Linked DNA regions of Homo sapiens: region 1 is linked to region 2. Evidence: fine-mapped expression QTL. A gene starts in region 2. The other region holds a variant in brackets. All regions are shown on one strand. Distances are from middle to middle.

The links.
Region 1: its variant is fine-mapped to the expression of ZNF614 in monocytes after R848 (Quach 2016, PIP 0.95).

Annotation. Positions count from the first base shown.
Region 1 is chr19:52,064,184-52,073,488 of GRCh38, reverse strand. ZNF841 (zinc finger protein 841) reads left to right here. Exons shown (of 7, transcript NM_001136499.2): 7 at 5,879-9,024. The coding sequence ends at 8,382. Among named protein-coding and RNA genes, the nearest start is that of ZNF432, 20 kb to the right of the region's middle. RefSeq lists enhancers at 2,160-3,359, 7,276-8,475. The variant TG/G (reference allele first, on the strand shown) is at 4,820.
Region 2 is chr19:52,023,652-52,033,091 of GRCh38, reverse strand. It overlaps ZNF614 (zinc finger protein 614), which reads left to right and starts at 4,713. Exons shown (of 5, transcript NM_025040.4): 1 at 4,713-4,850; 2 at 7,131-7,361. The coding sequence starts at 7,347. It overlaps ZNF432 (zinc finger protein 432), which reads left to right. Exons shown (of 5, transcript NM_014650.4): 5 at 1-1,714. LOC112268244 (a long non-coding RNA gene) reads right to left here and starts at 6,693. Exons shown (of 2, transcript XR_002958414.2): 1 at 6,554-6,693; 2 at 3,312-5,980. RefSeq lists enhancers at 4,226-4,985, 5,456-6,226.

The sequences.
Region 1 (9,305 bases), 40 kb before region 2:
TTTCTACTAAAAATACAAAAAAATTAGCCGGGTGTGGTGGCACATGCATGTAATCTCAGCTACTTGGGAGGCTGAGACAAGAGAATTGCTTGAAGCCAGTAGGCAGAGGTTGCATTGAGCTGAGATCACACTGCTGTACTTCAGCCTGGGCGACAGAGCAAGACCCTGTCTCTAAAAAAAAAAAAGAAAAAAAAACAACAACTTGTATTTTGTCCAGAAAAGTTTTTCCTAGATTTTCTTCTAGAATTTTTGTAGCTTGAAGACTTAATGTAAGTCGTTATTCATCTTGAATTAATTTTTGTATATGACAAGAGATAGGAGTCCAGTTTCATTCTTCTATATATGGCTAGCCAGTTTTTCTAGCACCCTTTATTGAATAGAATGTCTTTTCCCAATTTTTTTTTGACTATCAAGGATCAGTTGGTTGTAGGTGTGTGGCTGTATTTCTGGGTTTCCTATTCTGTTCCATTGGATATCTTCTGTTTTAATGTTAGCATTTATATCTGCAGATTTTCTATCTTAGCACTGTTTTTCCTGCATTCACAAGTTTTGGTATGTTCTATTTTCATTTTCCTTTGTTTTGAGATTTTTAAAATTTCCCTTGTGATTTCTAATTTGACATATTGGCTGTTTAAGAGTATGGTCCTTGTTTGTTTGTTTTTGTTTTTTGAGACGGAGTTACGCTCTTGTTGTCCAGGCTGGAGTGCAGTGGTGCAATCTCGGCTCACTGCAACCTCCACTTCCTGGGTTCAAGCGATTCTCCTGCCTCAGCCTCCCGAGTAGCTGGGATTACAGGCATCTGCCACCATGCTTGGCTGAGGGTTTCACTATGTTGGCCAGGCTGGTCTCGAACTCCTGACCTCAGGTGATCCACCTGCCTCAGCCACCCAAATTGCTGGGATTACAGGCGTGAGCCACCACACCGGCCTAAGAGTATGTTGTTTCCACATATTTGTTGATAATCTAATTTTCTTCTGCTGTTGATCTCTAGTTTTATTTTATTATGATGGGATAAGTTATGCTTTACGATTTTAGTCTTTAAAAAGTTTAAAATTTTTTTTCTTTTCCGATATTTCTTTTGAAAAATGTTTCATGTGCAGTTCTGAAAAATTTGTATTGCACTGTTTTTGGGTGATGTGTTATGCATATATAGGTTAGGTTCAACTTGATATATAGTTTAGGTTCTCTAGTTCCTTGTTTTTCTTCTGTCTGATTGTCCTATTTATAAGTAAAAATAGGCCATTGAAGTCTCTTATTATTACTGTGGAACTACTTCTCCCTTTAGTTACGTTAATTTTGCTTCACATATTGAGGATCTCTATATAGGCACATATTGTTATATCCTCCTAGTGAATTAACCTTTTAATCATTATATAATGCCCTTCTTTGTCTCTTGTACCAGTTTTGACATAAAGTCTATTTTGGCTGACATCAGTTTAGCCACCTCTGATGTCTTTCGGTTAACATTTTGAGGGCATATCTTTTTTCATCCCTTCAGTTCAGCCTATGTGTGTCCTTTGAATTAAAATGAGTATTTTCTGGATAGTGTGCAGCTGAAGCCAGTTTTAAAAATTTATTCAGCCAGTCTCTGTCTTTTGACTGTGGAGTATAAACACTTACATTTAATGTAATTACTGATAGAAAAGGACTTATATTGCCATTGTGTTAAGTGCTTTCTATATCTCTTTTAGATTTTTTTGTTCTGTTTGTCTTACTGCCTTCGTTTTTATATAGTTGATTTTTTTTTCCTGAAATAGTTTTATTTCCATTGTGTGTGTCTTCTATACATTCTCTGTGGTTACCGTTGCAATTACAGAAAACACTTTAGATTTATAACATCCTATTTTAAACTAATAACAGCTTAACTTCAATTACATACAGAAATGACTTTTTACAGATCTGCTTCCATGTTGTGTTTTTGATATCCCAGGATACTTTCATCGTATATACTGTGTCTCCATTAACATATATTTAAACCTTGACAAGAGTCTCCTGCTTTCTTTGTTTTCTCAAATCTTTGCCTGTTGTGCTACGGGTCCTCATTCTGCACCCCGTCTCCTTAACGTTCTTGTACTATCAGTAAAGTTTTGTGGTGTCTTTGTGTGTGTACAAAATGAATTCATCCATCTCCTCTTCGTGGCCATTTTCAGGTTTTTTCTTAAGGATTGAATTGTAAGAACAGTCTTTCACATATCTCTTGATATGTAGGGTTGTTGAGCATATACCTGGAAATAGAACTTATGGGACATTCAGTTTGATAAATTTCATAGCAAATATTATAGAGACATAAATCTGTTTTCTTCCCATATCATCACACCGCCTCCTTTTTAATTGTCTTCCCTTGTTGTCCTGCACCCATAGTATAATTCTCATGTTTAAGTATTAGTCAGTACAATACTACCTCTACATTAGTTTCTCTTTTCTTCCAAAGCCAGGATTTTAGCTGTTTCTTGTGCAATTCTATTCCCACAGCTCTTCAAGCACAAACCCTGCTGCTCCATGCTCATTACTCCTTGATCTCCCCTCTTGCCCTTTGTCCTCCTGGGCCTTTCCTAACATATTACTTTGTCCAGATGGACTACCCAGTTACTGACTAGCATATTAATTTTATACTCCCATTATTGCAGAACTCCCTCACCTCCCATGCTACTCTCACTCTGTAAGGGGTGACCCCTACTCATTCACTTGACCACTGTCTGATAACACTGCGTAAATCAATATGTGCAGGGGATGATGACTCAGATACCGTTCGTTATTCATGACGGATGGCTGAATAATGCTTTTGGCAACACAGCATTGCAGGGAGCCAAAGCCTGTGGGACGTGACCAACTCAGCATTCCACTGGAGGCTATATGATCAAACAGCAAACTGTTTATCATGAATGCAGGATGTGGGCAAACTCATGACTGCTCCTGCTGACAGAAGGTTTGCTGGAGGCAATCACTTCCTGGTGCCAGGGTTATCTACTGCCATATCTAGAGCCTGTTGTTTGAGGAATGCAGTCTTGCAAGCCTACTCTGGACTGCGCAGCTGACCCCTTCTTCCACCATCCTTCTCACTATCTCTCTTGCCTAATAAATACGGACGGCTGTGTAAAGCTCAGGGCCCTTGTCCACTACAGGCAAGGTGCCCCTGACCCCTTCTTCCAAATATACTCTTTTGTCTCTTGTCTTTTATTCCCGCATTCGCCCCCTTTGTTCAGTCCTCCTAGGTCCATGTGGGTTACATAGTGGCACCCTGAACAGCGACAGAATCAGGTGCTCTACACAAAATGGCTCTTGAAGTATTTCTACACTCTTGATATTTGGGTTGACCTGTTATCTGCACTGCTTGTTTGGGAAGTTGTTTTTAAAAAACATGTTTGATCTTGCAAACCCAGGTTCTTGTGTCTTACTTTCTTTGTAAATTGGGTATAGATACATAAATCCTGTGGGCATATTTAGTGTGCTTGTTTGTTAAATAGTGATAATTTACCTAAAGACTTTTTAAACAAGTTAATGCTGTTAGCTAGCTTAGAATATTGCATGTTTTATAGTACAGACTCACAAATTTGTTTAATAACGTGTATCAACATTGTTTCATGTTTATAATGAGATAGCATATTGGCTTTACCTTAGTCAGCATGACTAGCTATATCAGATACCATAGATAGGGTGGTTTAAACAGCAGAAATGGACTTTTCACAGATCTGGGTGGTGCAAAGTTCAACATGTCAGAGCCAGCCACTTTGGTTCTTGGTGTGGACTTTTTTCTGGTGTGCCATGGCTGACTCTGTGTTCTCATGTGGCAGAGAGATTGTCATGCAAAAAGCAGAGGCTTTTTCACGTTTCTGCTAATTGCATTCCTGAAGTTCTATGCACCATCCTGACCTAATTGCCTTCCAAAGACCACACTTCCAAATACTATCACATTGAGGATGGGGCCTTAACATAGGAATTTTGGCAGACATAAGTCTTTATATCAGAGCAGTCTACATTGTATCTGTAAGTTTTCATTTTGCAGTTTGGTCCAAACGGTGTTGTCTTTTATCTCAGTTCATGCATTTTCCAAGTACAATCTCTGTATCATATATATTTTGTGGCCAAGGAACTGGATAATAAAGACAGTGAATAGGACTGGGCACGGTGGCTCATGCCTATAATCCCAGCACTTTGGGAGGCAGAGGTGGGCAGATTGTTTGAGCTTAGGAGTTCCAGACCAGCCTGGGCAACATGGCAAAACCTCATCTCTACCAAAACTACAAAAAAATTAACCGGGCATGATGGCATGCATCTGTGGTCCCAGCTCTCAGGAGGCTGAGGTGGGAGGATCGCTTGAGCCTGTGAGTTGGAGGTTGCAGTGAGGTGGGATCATGCCACTGTACTCCAGCCTGGGTGACAGAGTGAGACTCCATCTCAGCCAAAAGCAAAAAAAGACAATGAATACATAGGGACTTGCTCTGTTGTTTGTTACATAGTTGTAGGCATGAAATCATAACTGAGATTTCTGATTTCCTTTCCCAAGTTTTATTCTTTTTTTGAGGCAGTCTCGCTCTGTTGCCCAGGCTGAAGTGCAGTGTCGTGATCTTGGCTGACTGCAACCTCCCCCTTACAGGTTTATGTGATTCTCGTGCTTCAGCCTCCTGAGTAGTTGGGATTACAGGCATGCATCACCACGCTTGGCTAATGTTTTATATTTTTAGTAGAGATGAGGTTTCACCATGTTGGCCTGGCTAGTCTCAAACTCTTGGCCTCAAGTGATCTGCCCACCTTGGCCTCTCAAAATGCTGGGATTATAGGTCTGAGCCACCATACCTGTCTCCATTTTTTTTTTTTTTTT[TG/G]AGACTGCTCTGTCGCCCAGGCTGGAGTGCAGTGGCGAAATCTTGGCTCACTGCAACCTCCGCCTCCTGGGTTCCAATGATTCTCCTGTCTCAGGCTCCGGAGTAGCTGGGATTACAGGCACGTGCCACCACACCCGGCTGATTTTTTTTACTTTTAGTACAGACGAGATTTCACCATGTTGGCCAAGCTAGTCTTGAACTCCTGACCTCGTGATCCACCCACCTCGGCCTCCCAAAGTGCTGGGATTACAGGCTTGAGCCACCGTGCCCGGCTGACCTGTCCCCAATTTTTATTCTTTATTATTTTATATATTTACCTTTCTCTCATCCAAGTACTAACCAGTTCTGACACTGCTTAGTTTCTGAGATCAGACAAGATCAGATGCATTCACGGTGGTATGGCCATAGACATATTTACCTTTCTTTTATCTTTAAAAGCCAGTGATCTCAACATATTTTCTAGTTATATACTGCCTCTAGAATATAAATTCTTGCTTATTATTGATGGAGAATTGTTTAGAATTTCATACTATAGATTTGTATTTTGTGGTTGTTCATTATTTACCTGCTGGTTTTATCACAGGCTATTAGAATGTTTTATTAATTAATTTATATTATGATTATTTATTAGTTAATATTTACCATTACAGTATATCTTGCTGTTGCTTGGCATTCATTTGTATGAAATAAATATATGTAACTTTTTTTCTCTCCTATTATGAGGGAGCCATATGTTTACTGCCAATTGGTGTGTCATTTGGGGTCAGCGATTGCAAAATACTTGTTTTGGTGCTCATATATGTTTGCATAACATGAGTCTTTTGGTCGAAGGATGTTTGAAACTAGGCTTTCCTAAAATTGATTTAAATTACATGTAATCACTTTTTCTTTACTATAGAATTCTATTCATTTTGCATTTCTACAAATAGAAGATCATGGTAGAAAAGTTTCACAACTTGCTAGTATAAACATTATGTTTAGCGTAGTGTGTTTTCAGTATAAAATAATATTTACCAATAATAGTTATTTTAAAACCCCATGTTCATTATATTTTGCAGGTATCTCTCCTAAATGTGTGATCAAGGAATTACCACCAATACAGAACAGTAACACAGGAGAAAAATTCCAAGCAGTGATGTTGGAAGGACATGAAAGCTATGACACTGAAAATTTTTACTTCAGGGAAATCCGGAAAAATCTACAGGAAGTTGACTTTCAATGGAAAGATGGTGAAATAAATTATAAAGAAGGGCCGATGACCCATAAAAACAATCTTACTGGTCAAAGAGTTCGACATAGTCAAGGGGACGTAGAAAACAAGCATATGGAAAATCAGCTTATATTAAGGTTTCAGTCCGGTCTGGGTGAATTGCAGAAATTTCAAACTGCAGAGAAAATTTATGGATGTAATCAAATTGAGAGGACAGTTAATAATTGTTTTTTAGCTTCACCACTTCAAAGAATTTTTCCTGGTGTCCAAACCAACATTTCTAGGAAATATGGGAATGATTTTTTGCAACTTTCGTTACCTACACAAGACGAGAAAACACATATTAGGGAAAAACCTTACATAGGTAATGAGTGTGGCAAAGCCTTCAGAGTGTCTTCAAGTCTTATTAATCATCAGATGATACATACTACAGAGAAACCTTACAGATGCAATGAGTCTGGTAAAGCCTTTCATCGGGGCTCACTACTAACAGTACATCAGATAGTCCATACAAGAGGGAAACCATACCAATGTGATGTATGTGGCAGGATCTTCAGACAAAATTCAGATCTTGTAAATCACCGGAGAAGTCACACTGGAGACAAACCCTACATATGTAATGAATGTGGCAAGTCCTTTAGTAAAAGTTCCCACCTTGCAGTTCATCAGAGAATTCATACTGGAGAGAAACCTTACAAATGTAATCGATGTGGGAAGTGCTTTAGTCAAAGTTCCTCTCTTGCAACTCATCAGACAGTTCATACTGGAGACAAACCCTACAAATGTAATGAATGTGGCAAAACCTTTAAACGGAACTCAAGCCTCACTGCACATCATATAATCCATGCAGGAAAGAAACCATATACATGTGATGTATGTGGCAAGGTCTTTTATCAGAATTCACAACTTGTAAGGCACCAGATAATTCATACTGGAGAGACACCTTACAAATGTAATGAATGTGGCAAGGTCTTCTTTCAACGTTCACGTCTTGCAGGGCACCGGAGAATTCATACTGGAGAGAAACCCTACAAATGTAATGAATGTGGCAAGGTCTTCAGTCAACATTCACATCTTGCAGTGCATCAGAGAGTTCATACTGGAGAGAAACCTTACAAATGTAATGAATGTGGCAAAGCCTTTAATTGGGGCTCATTACTAACTGTACATCAGAGAATTCATACCGGAGAGAAACCTTACAAATGTAATGTGTGTGGCAAGGTCTTTAATTACGGTGGATACCTTTCGGTTCATATGAGATGTCATACTGGAGAGAAACCTCTCCATTGTAATAAATGTGGCATGGTCTTCACTTACTATTCATGCCTAGCACGTCATCAAAGAATGCATACCGGAGAGAAACCTTACAAATGTAATGTGTGTGGCAAGGTCTTCATTGACAGTGGAAACCTTTCAATTCATAGGCGAAGTCATACCGGAGAGAAACCTTTCCAGTGTAACGAATGCGGCAAGGTCTTCAGTTACTACTCATGCCTAGCACGTCATCGGAAAATTCATACCGGAGAGAAACCTTATAAATGTAATGATTGTGGCAAAGCCTATACTCAGCGTTCAAGCCTCACTAAACATCTGGTAATTCATACTGGAGAGAACCCTTACCACTGTAATGAATTTGGTGAGGCTTTTATCCAAAGTTCAAAACTTGCAAGATATCACAGAAATCCTACTGGGGAGAAACCACACAAATGTAGTGAATGTGGTAGAACTTTTAGTCATAAAACAAGTCTGGTGTACCATCAGAGAAGACATACTGGAGAGATGCCATACAAATGTATTGAATGTGGGAAAGTCTTTAACTCCACTACAACCCTGGCAAGGCATCGGAGAATTCATACTGGAGAGAAACCTTACAAATGTAATGAATGTGGCAAGGTCTTCCGTTATCGCTCAGGCCTCGCACGTCATTGGAGTATTCATACTGGAGAGAAACCTTACAAATGTAATGAGTGTGGCAAAGCCTTTAGAGTACGTTCAATTCTGCTTAATCATCAGATGATGCATACTGGAGAGAAACCTTATAAATGTAATGAATGTGGTAAAGCTTTTATCGAAAGGTCAAACTTGGTTTACCATCAGAGAAACCATACTGGAGAGAAGCCATACAAATGTATGGAATGTGGCAAGGCGTTTGGGCGGCGGTCTTGCCTCACTAAACACCAACGAATTCATTCTAGTGAAAAACCTTATAAATGTAATGAGTGTGGCAAATCTTACATTAGTCGCTCAGGCCTCACTAAACATCAGATAAAACATGCTGGAGAGAACCTTACAACTAAACTCAATGTGGAAAGGCCGTTAGATGTTGTCCTAACCTCTGGGATCCCCAAATAATTTATACTTACTCATATAGCTTGTATATTTGTCCTTTCCCTTTGAAGTCTCATGTGGAATTGTAGTAATCTCCAGTATTGGAGGTGGAGCCTAGTGGGAGGTGATTGGATGATGGGGGTGGCTTTCTCAAGAAAGTTTTAGTACCATCCCCTTGTTGCTGTCCTTGTGATAGTTCTCATGAGGTCTGGCTCATGCCTGTAATCCCAGCACTTTGGGAGGCTGAGGTGGGCGGATCACTTGAGGTCAGGAGTTCAAGAGCAGCCTGGCCAACATGGTGAAACCCTGTTTCTGCCAAAAATACAAAAATTAGCTGGGCTTCGTGGCGGGTACTGGTAGTACCAGCTACTCGAGAGGCTGAGTCAGGAGAATTGCTTGAACCCTGGAGGCGGAGGTTGCAGTGAGCCGAGATCGCGCCACTGCACTCTAGCCTGGGTGACAGAGTGAGACTCCATCACGCACACGCACGCACGAAAGTGAATGGCACCTCCCTCTTGTTTGTTCTTCTGGCCATGTGACATGCCCTTCACCTCCCACCATCATTTTAACCTTCCTCAGGTTTCCCGAGAGGGTGAACAGACGTCAGCGCCATGTTTCCTATAAAGCCTGCAAAATTGTGAGTCAATTAAACCTCTTTATACATTACCTAGCCTCAGGTATTTCTGTCTAGCCATGCAATTATGGCCTAATATATTTACACATGGAGTGAATATAGCTAAGTTTTTTTTTTTTTTTTTTTTTTTTTTTTTTTTTTTTGGAGACGGAGTCTCGCTCTGTCGCCCAGGCGGGACTGCGGACTGCAGTGGCGCAATCTCGGCTCACTGCAAGCTCTGCTTCCTGGGTTCACGCCATTCTCCTGCCTCAGCCTCCCGAGTAGCTGGGACTACAGGCGCTCGCCACCGCGCCCGGCTAATTTTTTTTGTATT
Region 2 (9,440 bases):
TATGTCTTGAAAAGTATTTACTGAGATAAATCTTACAAAGGAGTAGGCTAGGAAAGCCTTCTATGGGAAGAAAGACCCTATCTCTTCAGTGATCATAATAGATCATCAATGAACTTACACATACTAGCAGCATTATCATGGGAAAGCCTTTGCCCAGAAATAAAACCTTAACAGTTGGCAGATATATTTCATACTGGAGAACAAGTTTCAGATGGCAGTGAATACACGAGGATTTCAGTGATACATGCTGCCTCATCATCATTACTTCATACAGAAATAAAACTTATATGAAGAGTAACTTTAAAAAGGATCAGGAAATTCATGAAGTAAAAAAGTCTCATGAAAATGATACATAATGCCGGGCATGGTGGCTTGCACCTGTAATCCCAGCACTTTGGGAGGCCAAGGTGGGTGGATCACTTGAGGTCGGGAGTTCGAGACCAGCCTGACCAACATGGTGAAGCCCCCCTCTCTACTAAAAATACAAAATTAGCCGAGCATGGTGGCTCACGCTTGTAATCCCAGCTACTCTGGAGGCTAAGCTGGAGAATCACTTGAACCTGGGAGGCAGAGGTTTCAGTGAGCCAAGATTGCGCCATTGCATTCCAGCCTGGGCAACAAGAGCGAAACTCTGCCTCAAAAAAAAAAAAAAAAAACCATATTTGAGGACTGTCACAAATCTAAACTCATGATACACTTGATATCTATTCTGTGACAGCATACCTTGCATCATATTATCAATGATTCCATAATTGTAAAGCGGGCTGTTCTTATCACTGATTAAATTTTAATCCTATATATAACACAGGTGTTTTCTGTGCCAATCTGGTGTTATTTATTAGTTCTTACATATTATAGGCCCCAAATTTATTTTTTTCAATTTACTGATAAATGTAATTCAGTATATTTGGATGTGTTTATCCAAGTTACTAGGTACCATTATGTAGTTTACAAAAATGCCTTAAATGTTATTTTTCTAAAATTTGTTTTGAAATAATTCTAGATTCACAAGAGATTACAAAATATACAAAAGTTTCCTGAGTATTCTTTGCTTAGCATCATCAATGTTATCTTACATAACCATAATAATAAAAACCACGGAGTTCTGCTCTTGTTGCCCAGGTTGGAGTGTAATAGCACGATCTTGGCTCACTGCAACCCCGCCTCCCAGGTTCAAGAGATTTTCCTGCCTCAGCCTCCTAAGTAGCTGGGATTACAGGCACCCACGACCACGCTCGACTAATTTTTGTATTTTTAGTAGAGACGGGGTTTCACTGTGTTGGCCAGGCTGGCCTTGAACTCTCGACCCCGGGCGGTCCACCCGCCTCAGCCTCCCAAAGTGCTGGGATTACAGGCATGAGCCACCACGCCTGGCCTCCTCTTGCTACCTCTTTATACTCACACTGTCCTCCCAATATGACCCATGGTAGCCACTGATCCCATTACCCTAATTTTGTTATTTCAAGAATGCTATTAAAATGGAATCGTAAGGTACGCAAGCTTTGAGATAGGGCTTTGTTCACTCAGCAAATTACCCTTAAGATCTATCCAAGTTGTTAGGTGTCTAAATAGTTTTAATTTTTGTTACTGAGTTAGTATTCTTTTAAATGGATGCACCAGGGTTTGTGTATCCATTCACTGTTGATGGACATTTGGGTTGTTTCCAGTGTTTTGCTGTTATAAATAAAGATGCTGTGACTATTTGTGTACCCGATATTGTGCGAACGTTAAGTTTTTATATATTTGGGATAGACACTGGGGGCATGACTGCTGGCGAATATGGTAAATGTGTTTAACTTTATAAGAAATGGCCAAACTCTTTCCCAGAGTGGCTGTACTAGTTTACATTCCCACCACCAATGTGTAAGCATTCCATGCCCTTTCTAGCTCTTGGCATTGCCAGTGTGCTTTAGCTTTCCTATTAGGTGTGTGGTGGTATATGATCATGGCCTCAACTTACACACCCCTAACACAAAATGATATTAAGCATCTCTACATCCACTGAGAACCATATCAAGTAAAATTGTAACTTTTGCTTCCAACCAGCAAACCCAATGTTTAAAACTCAAAAGAATATTATATTTTATAATATATTTACCCTTTCTGTTCCTTTTTCTTCATTCCTGATGTAATATTTCCTTTAGTTATTTCCTTTTTGTGCGAACTTCCTTAATCATTTCTCTTTGAGCAGGCCTGGTGGCAAAAAATTATTAGTTTCCCTAGAAACAGGGTTCCTGTTTTCTCTATCCAGAGTTATTTCCCTTGATCTAATGAGATTTAATCCAGTTTATAAATGGTGAGTTCTCTTTATAAAAGTAATAGACATTTGCCATATAGTATTGTGGCAGAATTCAATCCCTGACTCCATATTGAGTAATTTACTTCTTTGAAAATATTTTTTGAGCTTCTACACCATGGCAGGCATGTTGTAGGCAATGGAGACACATCAATGAACAAAACAGGCAAAGTGCTGGCTTTGATATGACATACAGTCTGGTGAAGGAGACTGAGTAAGATAAATACAAAATCGAATTCAGTTAAGTGCTAGGAAGAAATATAAAGCCTGGTAAGTTCATAGATTGTAACCTGAGTTATTTTAGGAAGAGTTTTCAGGATAGGCTTTTCTGTGCAGATATAATTTGAACCAAAGCCTAAATATACTGTGGGGACACAGCCATCATATTTTTAAGTCCAGAACACTATAGAACTTTCTAAGTGTTTTCTTTGGGGTTCCTGCCTCAGCATTCTCTGAGAAGCTTGTAAAAGAAGGCAAATTCTTGAGTCACTCCCCAGACATTCCAAGCTAGAATTTCTGGGGATGGGGTTCGGACTCTGCATTTATAAAAAGAGCCTTCTTAAATTTGAACATCTCTGCCCTAAATTGTGGATTGGTGCTCCCATCACCATTCCCACACTGTAACAGGATGGATTCAGGGCAGATTGTCTCCAGCAATGAATCAGACAAAAGTGCTCCACCAACCAGGCCCTTGAATCACCTTCCTTGTCCCGTGAATCAGCACAGCCTGCCACGGCAAAGTTTTATCAGCCCACTCCTGGAAATGATCAGTGAAGGTCCCATCATGGGCTGCTCATAGTCCTGTGGACCAGGTGCTAAACTTACCTACCAGAGATTAACATTCCAGATGAACGGGGCTGAAATTTAATCCTGGATGGAATATGTTATAACACTCAAGAAATACGAACATGAAATTCTTATTCTCTAGAAATTACAAAACGTAAGTAAAATGAAGAAATTTTAAGTCACCATAATTGTACGGAACAGTCAAATATTGTTAGTATATTCTCCAGAATTTTTCAAATGCATGAGCATATTTATTTTCTGAAAGAAAACAGCCTATTTTGCATTTATCATGCCATGAACTTATTATACATCATCATACCTATTTTCTAAGATCAACATGTTTTATAATATATTCATGATTATGGTACAAAGATAGTAAAATTAAGTATAAATTGGGAATATTTTTCAAGTAAAAACATGGCATTCTCTACCTATGAACACAAACAATATTAATTCAAACTAAATGTCTTGTTTAACCAATCACAATTTTCCAAAAGATGTTTATGATTTCTTCCAATAACAAGACCATAAAATATATACTATCCTGCAGATCATTTTTTTGTCCTCTGACAAAGTTTTCTTTTTTATAAAACAATTGTAGCATATTCTTTTAAATTGATATATACTCTTACAGTTCAGCAGATGTTCCATAATTTACCAAAGTATTCATCTCTCATTGTAATTCCCTTTTTTTGTAAATTACAAAAGTTGTGGTTAATATTAAGACAGATTTGCCTAGATAGCTTTTAGAATTGCTGTGTCAAAGAAAACGAAAAAATTAAATTGGCTCTAGGTTGCCTTCCAAAAATACAATATTTACTTAAATCTTCTACAGTTACAACGCCAACATCTGCAAAAATAGAACTAATATTTTTTAAGTGTGACTTTTTAAAAAATCTGGAAACATTGCAAAGTAGGATGATCGCATTCTAATAATTTCATATTCTTAAGTGCCCCACTGTCATCTTCCTTTACTTCTGGAAGGAAACATGTAGATATTAACACAGTTGCACCTTCACCTCCTCATCCCCTTCCCCACTGGCAGTGGTTTTAATAGCAAGCCCCATGTGGGTATTAGCATTTAATGGAGCATCACTCCTGTTCTCGGCTTCGTCCATTCAGTCAGAGTCTAATCTAACCCACAAAAGCCTTACCCAGCCCAGAACCCCCGCCCTATCCCCAAATCTAACACTTTCAGTGACCACTGGTTTTGGCAACTCTGTGACCGCTTCCTGGCCAGCACCGTGACTTCTTCAAACCTTGTTTATTTTTCCAAATTGTCCTGGATATGAGCATCTTCTCTGCCGTACGGCTGCTGCCTTCCTCTAAGATGGCCGTGCCCATGGTGCTCCAGCTAAGGCTCCACTCTCAGCTATAATGGGCACAAAGGGCGCCGCCATCTTTTTTCCACAGCAGGCTGAATAGAATGCCACTGCGCCGTGTTGGCCTTGGCTGGGCACCCGACTCTTGAGTGTCCCTTGCAACGAAGAGAGAAAGGCACTGAGGTGACTAAGAGTGATTCCCACAGCCATTATGGCCGCTCCTGTCAGAAACGCTGCGATGGGCGCAGCCCTGTGACCTCATAGAGCGGCGCCCGCAGTCTGAACTCGCGATCCCGGGCAGGCTCCGTGGTCCTCGCCTCGCTTCACGGTCTTTACCGCTCAGCTTCCCGGAGTCCGCGCAGGAGCGCGTCTGAATAGGAAGCGTTTTCGGACGTGGATGCGGCGTTTTGTCGCTGCCAGTGGTGTCTGGAGAGGTTCGGGCTCGGGTGAGTCGAGTTCTGGGCATGGACTCGCGGCCTGTGGGTCTGTGTACCGATGGTGCGTGGAGCGTCCTGATTGGGGCTGTATTTGAACGCAGTCGCTGAGGAAGCGGGGCGTTAATGACGGGTCCTTTGGCTGTAGGGATGAAGAGTCTGAGGAAATCAGCGACGAGTCCGACTCTGTCTGGGTCTGGGGCCCTTGTGAGTCACCCTTTACGGGTGTTGGGCTGGGGGACGGTCAGGTCTTTCCCTTCCCATGAGGCCCTATCTCAGGCTATCACATGGGATATTATCTTTCCTGAAGAATATAACATGTGCTCTTGAAAAAAATGTTTATTTTACTGCTGTTGAGTGCAGTGTTAAATGTTCGTTAAGTCTAGTTGGTTGATAATGTTGTTCAAGTTTTCGGTATCCTTGCTGAGTTTCTATTTGTTTTCTTTATTATTGCAAGTAGGGTAATGTAGTCTTCAATTATTATTGTTGAATTGTCTAATCCTCTCTCATTCTGTTTTGCTTCATACGTTTTTAAATTATCATATTCTTATATATACACCCTTATATTATTATTGCCAGCCATTGTAACCATTGTTGCCACTCACCTAGGCCTTGGTGTCCAGAGTTTTATTGGATATCAGTTAACACACACACACACAATTGACTGCCTATGAGGCTGACTTCAATCTCCAGCTCCTCCAGATATCAAACTAATACCACGTGGTCCAAGGTCTCCCACAGTAAATCACATTATTAGGATAGACAATTTGGCATGGCTTAAATTGCCCTGATAACCAAAGACAGTTTTATCAAGCAGCGTATTCCAAAGGCTTAGAGTTTGCCTCATAGGAACTGTGGGCAAAGGACAAAGCTCTCTTGGGTAAAGTTACTCCTTTAGCGCATAATGTGAAATGAGACAGTTCTTGTGATTTGCTTAGTACATTGGTCTTGACACGAGGTATGTATACCCAAAGAGCTTACAGAGACTTTCGAACCAGTACATGGGCACACGTGGTTTTTAAAGACATTCTTGGAGCCTTCCATGTGTTCTCTTTCCTAAAATTGATCTGTCTGAGAATTCACCTTGAAGGGGGCCACCCCTCCACAACCTGTGGGTGTTTCTTGTCAGGTGGGATGAGAGACTGAGAAAAGAAATAAGAGACAAAGTATAGAGAAAGAAAAGTGGGCCCAGGAGACCAGCACTCAGCATACGGAGGACCCACGCTGGCACTGGTCTCTGAGTTCCCTCAGTATTTATTGATCACTATCTCTACCACCTCGGAGAGGGGGATGTGGCAGGACAATAAGGTAATAGTGGGGAGAGGGTCAGCAGGAAAACATGTGAACAAAGGTCTCTGTGTCATAAATAAGTTTAAGGAAACGTGCTGTGCCTTGATGTGCACGCACACAAACATTTCGGTACAATAAAGAGCAGTATTGCCACCAGCATGTCTCACCTCCAGCCCTAAGGCGGTTTTCTCCTATCTCAGTAAATAGAACAGACAATGGGGTTTTACACGGAGACATTCCATTCCCAGGGACGAGGAGGAGACAGATGCCTTTCTCTTATCTCAACCGCAAAGAGGCCTTCCTCTTTTACTGATCCTCCTCAGCAGAGACCCTTTACAGGTGTCGGGGTAGGGGACGGTCAGGTCTTTCCCTTCCCACGAGGCCATATCTCAGGCTATCATATGGGGAGAAACCTTGGACAATACCTGGTTTTCCTAGGCAGAGGTCCCCGCGGCCTTCCGCAGTGTATTGTGTCTCTGGGTAGTTGAGATTAGAGAATGGTGATGACTTTTACCAAGCATACTGCCTTCAAGCACGTTTTTAACAAAGCACATCCTGCACAGCCCTAAATCCATTAAACCTTGAGTCAACACAGCACATGTCTCTGCTAGCATAGGGTTGGAGCTAGGGTTACAGATTAACAGCATCTCAAGGCAGAAGAATTTCTCTTAGTACAGAACAAAATGGAGCCTCTTATGTCTACTTCTTTCTGCATAGACACAGTAACAGTCTGATCTCTCTTTCTTTTCCCCAGACACCTGCCTCTGAGGCATTGTGCTGTGCTGGTTCTGCTTTCCCACCTTCTCTATAATAGTCATGCCACTTCTACTTCACAAAAGAAAGGCATAGATTTCACACATTTAGAACCATGAAAACCTCTGAGGCAGCAAATAAAGGAACTGTTAGAAATATTAGGGTCTTTTATTTAAGGTAAGTGCAGAGCAGCAGTGACAATGTCTGGACCCAGGGTTAATGTACACTGAAAGCCATTTTGTTTATCAGTCCTCAGGTCCTGGCTCCCAGAAGCAAAATAACTCAAGTGAAGCAATGAAGGAAGAAGAAGGAGGTTGCTGGCCTTGGATATCATAATTTCTGGGGACAACTTTAAGTGGACACTAATATTTCTGACTAGGAAAACTTCAAAAACTTCATGGCAAATGCAGAAGAGACAAAGACGTATAGTCCATGTTATCCACTATTTTCTGAGCACAGAAGAAAATGATCAAGACCCAGGTGATATTTTCCCTTTGATTTTTTGATAGATTTATGGTGGCCTGAAGAAGTCAGTTGAACTTAAGGAAGTATATACTGGGATAATTGTGTTCTAGGGAGAAATTAACTTACATTGCTTTTGGGAGTAGAGGTGGGGGTTCATTCTGCCTTAAGAAGTAGATTCTGGATCGCTTGAGCTCAGGAGTTCAAGACCAGCCTGGGCAACATGGTGAAACCCCGTCTCTACAAAAAATACAAAAATTAGCTGGGTGTGGTGGTGCACACCTGTAATCCCAGCTACTCGGGAGGCTAAGGTGGGAGAAGAATTGCTAGAGCTCAGGAGGACGAGGCTACAGTGAGCCATGTTTGCACCACCGCACTCCAACCTGGGTGACAAAGTAAGACCCTGTCTCAAAAAGAAGGAAAAAAAAGTAGACTCAATATGAAAGAATCCATGCTTTGTTGGTAGTTCAACTTTTGACCATTACAATGATACATGAATCACCCACCACTCAAGAAGGAACTATGGTTGTCATTTTAATGTACATACTCCAGACCATTTTTGGAATATTGGCATTCTTTGCATGCTGGTGCCTGCCAACCAACTTTTTTAAAATTACTAATTTATTTATTTATTTATTTTGAGACAGAGTCTTGCTCTGTTGCCCAGGCTGGAGTGCAGTGGCGCAGTCTTGGCTCACTGCAAGCTCTGCCTCCCAGGTTCACGCCATTCTCTTGCCTCAGCCTCCCAAGTAGTTGGCAGGAGACAGATGCCTTCCTCTTATCTCAACTGCAAAAAGGCCTTCCTCTTTTTCTAATCCTCCTCAGCACAGACCCTTTACGGGTATCCCCCGGTGTCATGCTGGGGGACGGTCAGGTCTTTCCCTTCCCACGAGGCCATATCTCAGGCTATCACTTGGGAAGAAACCTTGGACAATACCTGGCTTTCCTAGGCAGAGGCCCCTGTGGCCTTCTGCAGTGTGTTGTGTCCCTGGGTACTTGAGATTAGAGAATGGTGATGACTTTTAACAAGCATACTGCCTTCAAGTGCTTTTTTAACAAAGGACATTCTGCATAGCCCTAAATCCATTAAACCTTGAGTCAACACAGCACATATTTCTGCGAGCACAGGGTTAGGGCTACGGTTACAGATTAACAGCATCTCAAGGCAGAAGAATTTCTCTTAGTACAGAACAAAATGAAGTCTCTTACGTCTACTTCTTTCTACATAGACACAGTAACAGTCTGATCTCTCTTTCTTTTCCCCACATCTGACACCAGATATGTGGGGTTTTTCCCACACATCAATTCAATTCTCCATACCTATTAGGTATTCTAAAATTTACTCAATTCTGACACTAATTGTCTAGACTTAGGACAGACTCCACAGGTTGAGGGCTCAGTCCCACAATACTGCCCCCCTGAAAAGTGCTGGGTCCCCAGGTTACTCACAAGTTCTTTTGGACTTGGCTACCAATTGGATGTCCCCACAACCCCCTTCTCAGATCTATTCATCTGCTAGAAGGCTCAAAAAATGCAGGAAGACAGTTTACTTACTAGATTACTGGCTTATTATGAAAGGGTACAACTCAGGAATGGCCAGTTGGAAAAGATGCATAGGTCAGGTAATGGGGAAGGGCCTCAGGGCTTCCATGCCCTTTCTGGGTATTCTACCCTCCCAGGACTACCCTATGTTCAGCAGCCTGGAAGCTCTCAACCTCATCCTTTTATTGTTTTGGTGGGTTCATTACATAGGCATAATTTATTAATTCATTAACTATTGGTGGTAAGCTCAATTTCCATCACCTCTCCCTTCCACAGAGGTCAGGGGTTGGTTGGAGAGGTGAGACTGAAAGTTCCAACTGTCTGTCACAAGGTTGGTTCCCCTGGCAACCAGCTCCCTTCCTGAGGCCATGGAAGAGCCCCAGGCACCAGTCATCTCAATAGCATATAAAAGACACTTCAGCAATTCCAAAGATTTGGAGGGCAGAGACCAAATGTATATTTATTTTTCACAGTCTGGTATATAGAAAGTGACACGGATAAGTATATTTGGTCATTGTTCCCAGTTCATGGCACAGTATGCTTAAAACCCTTGGA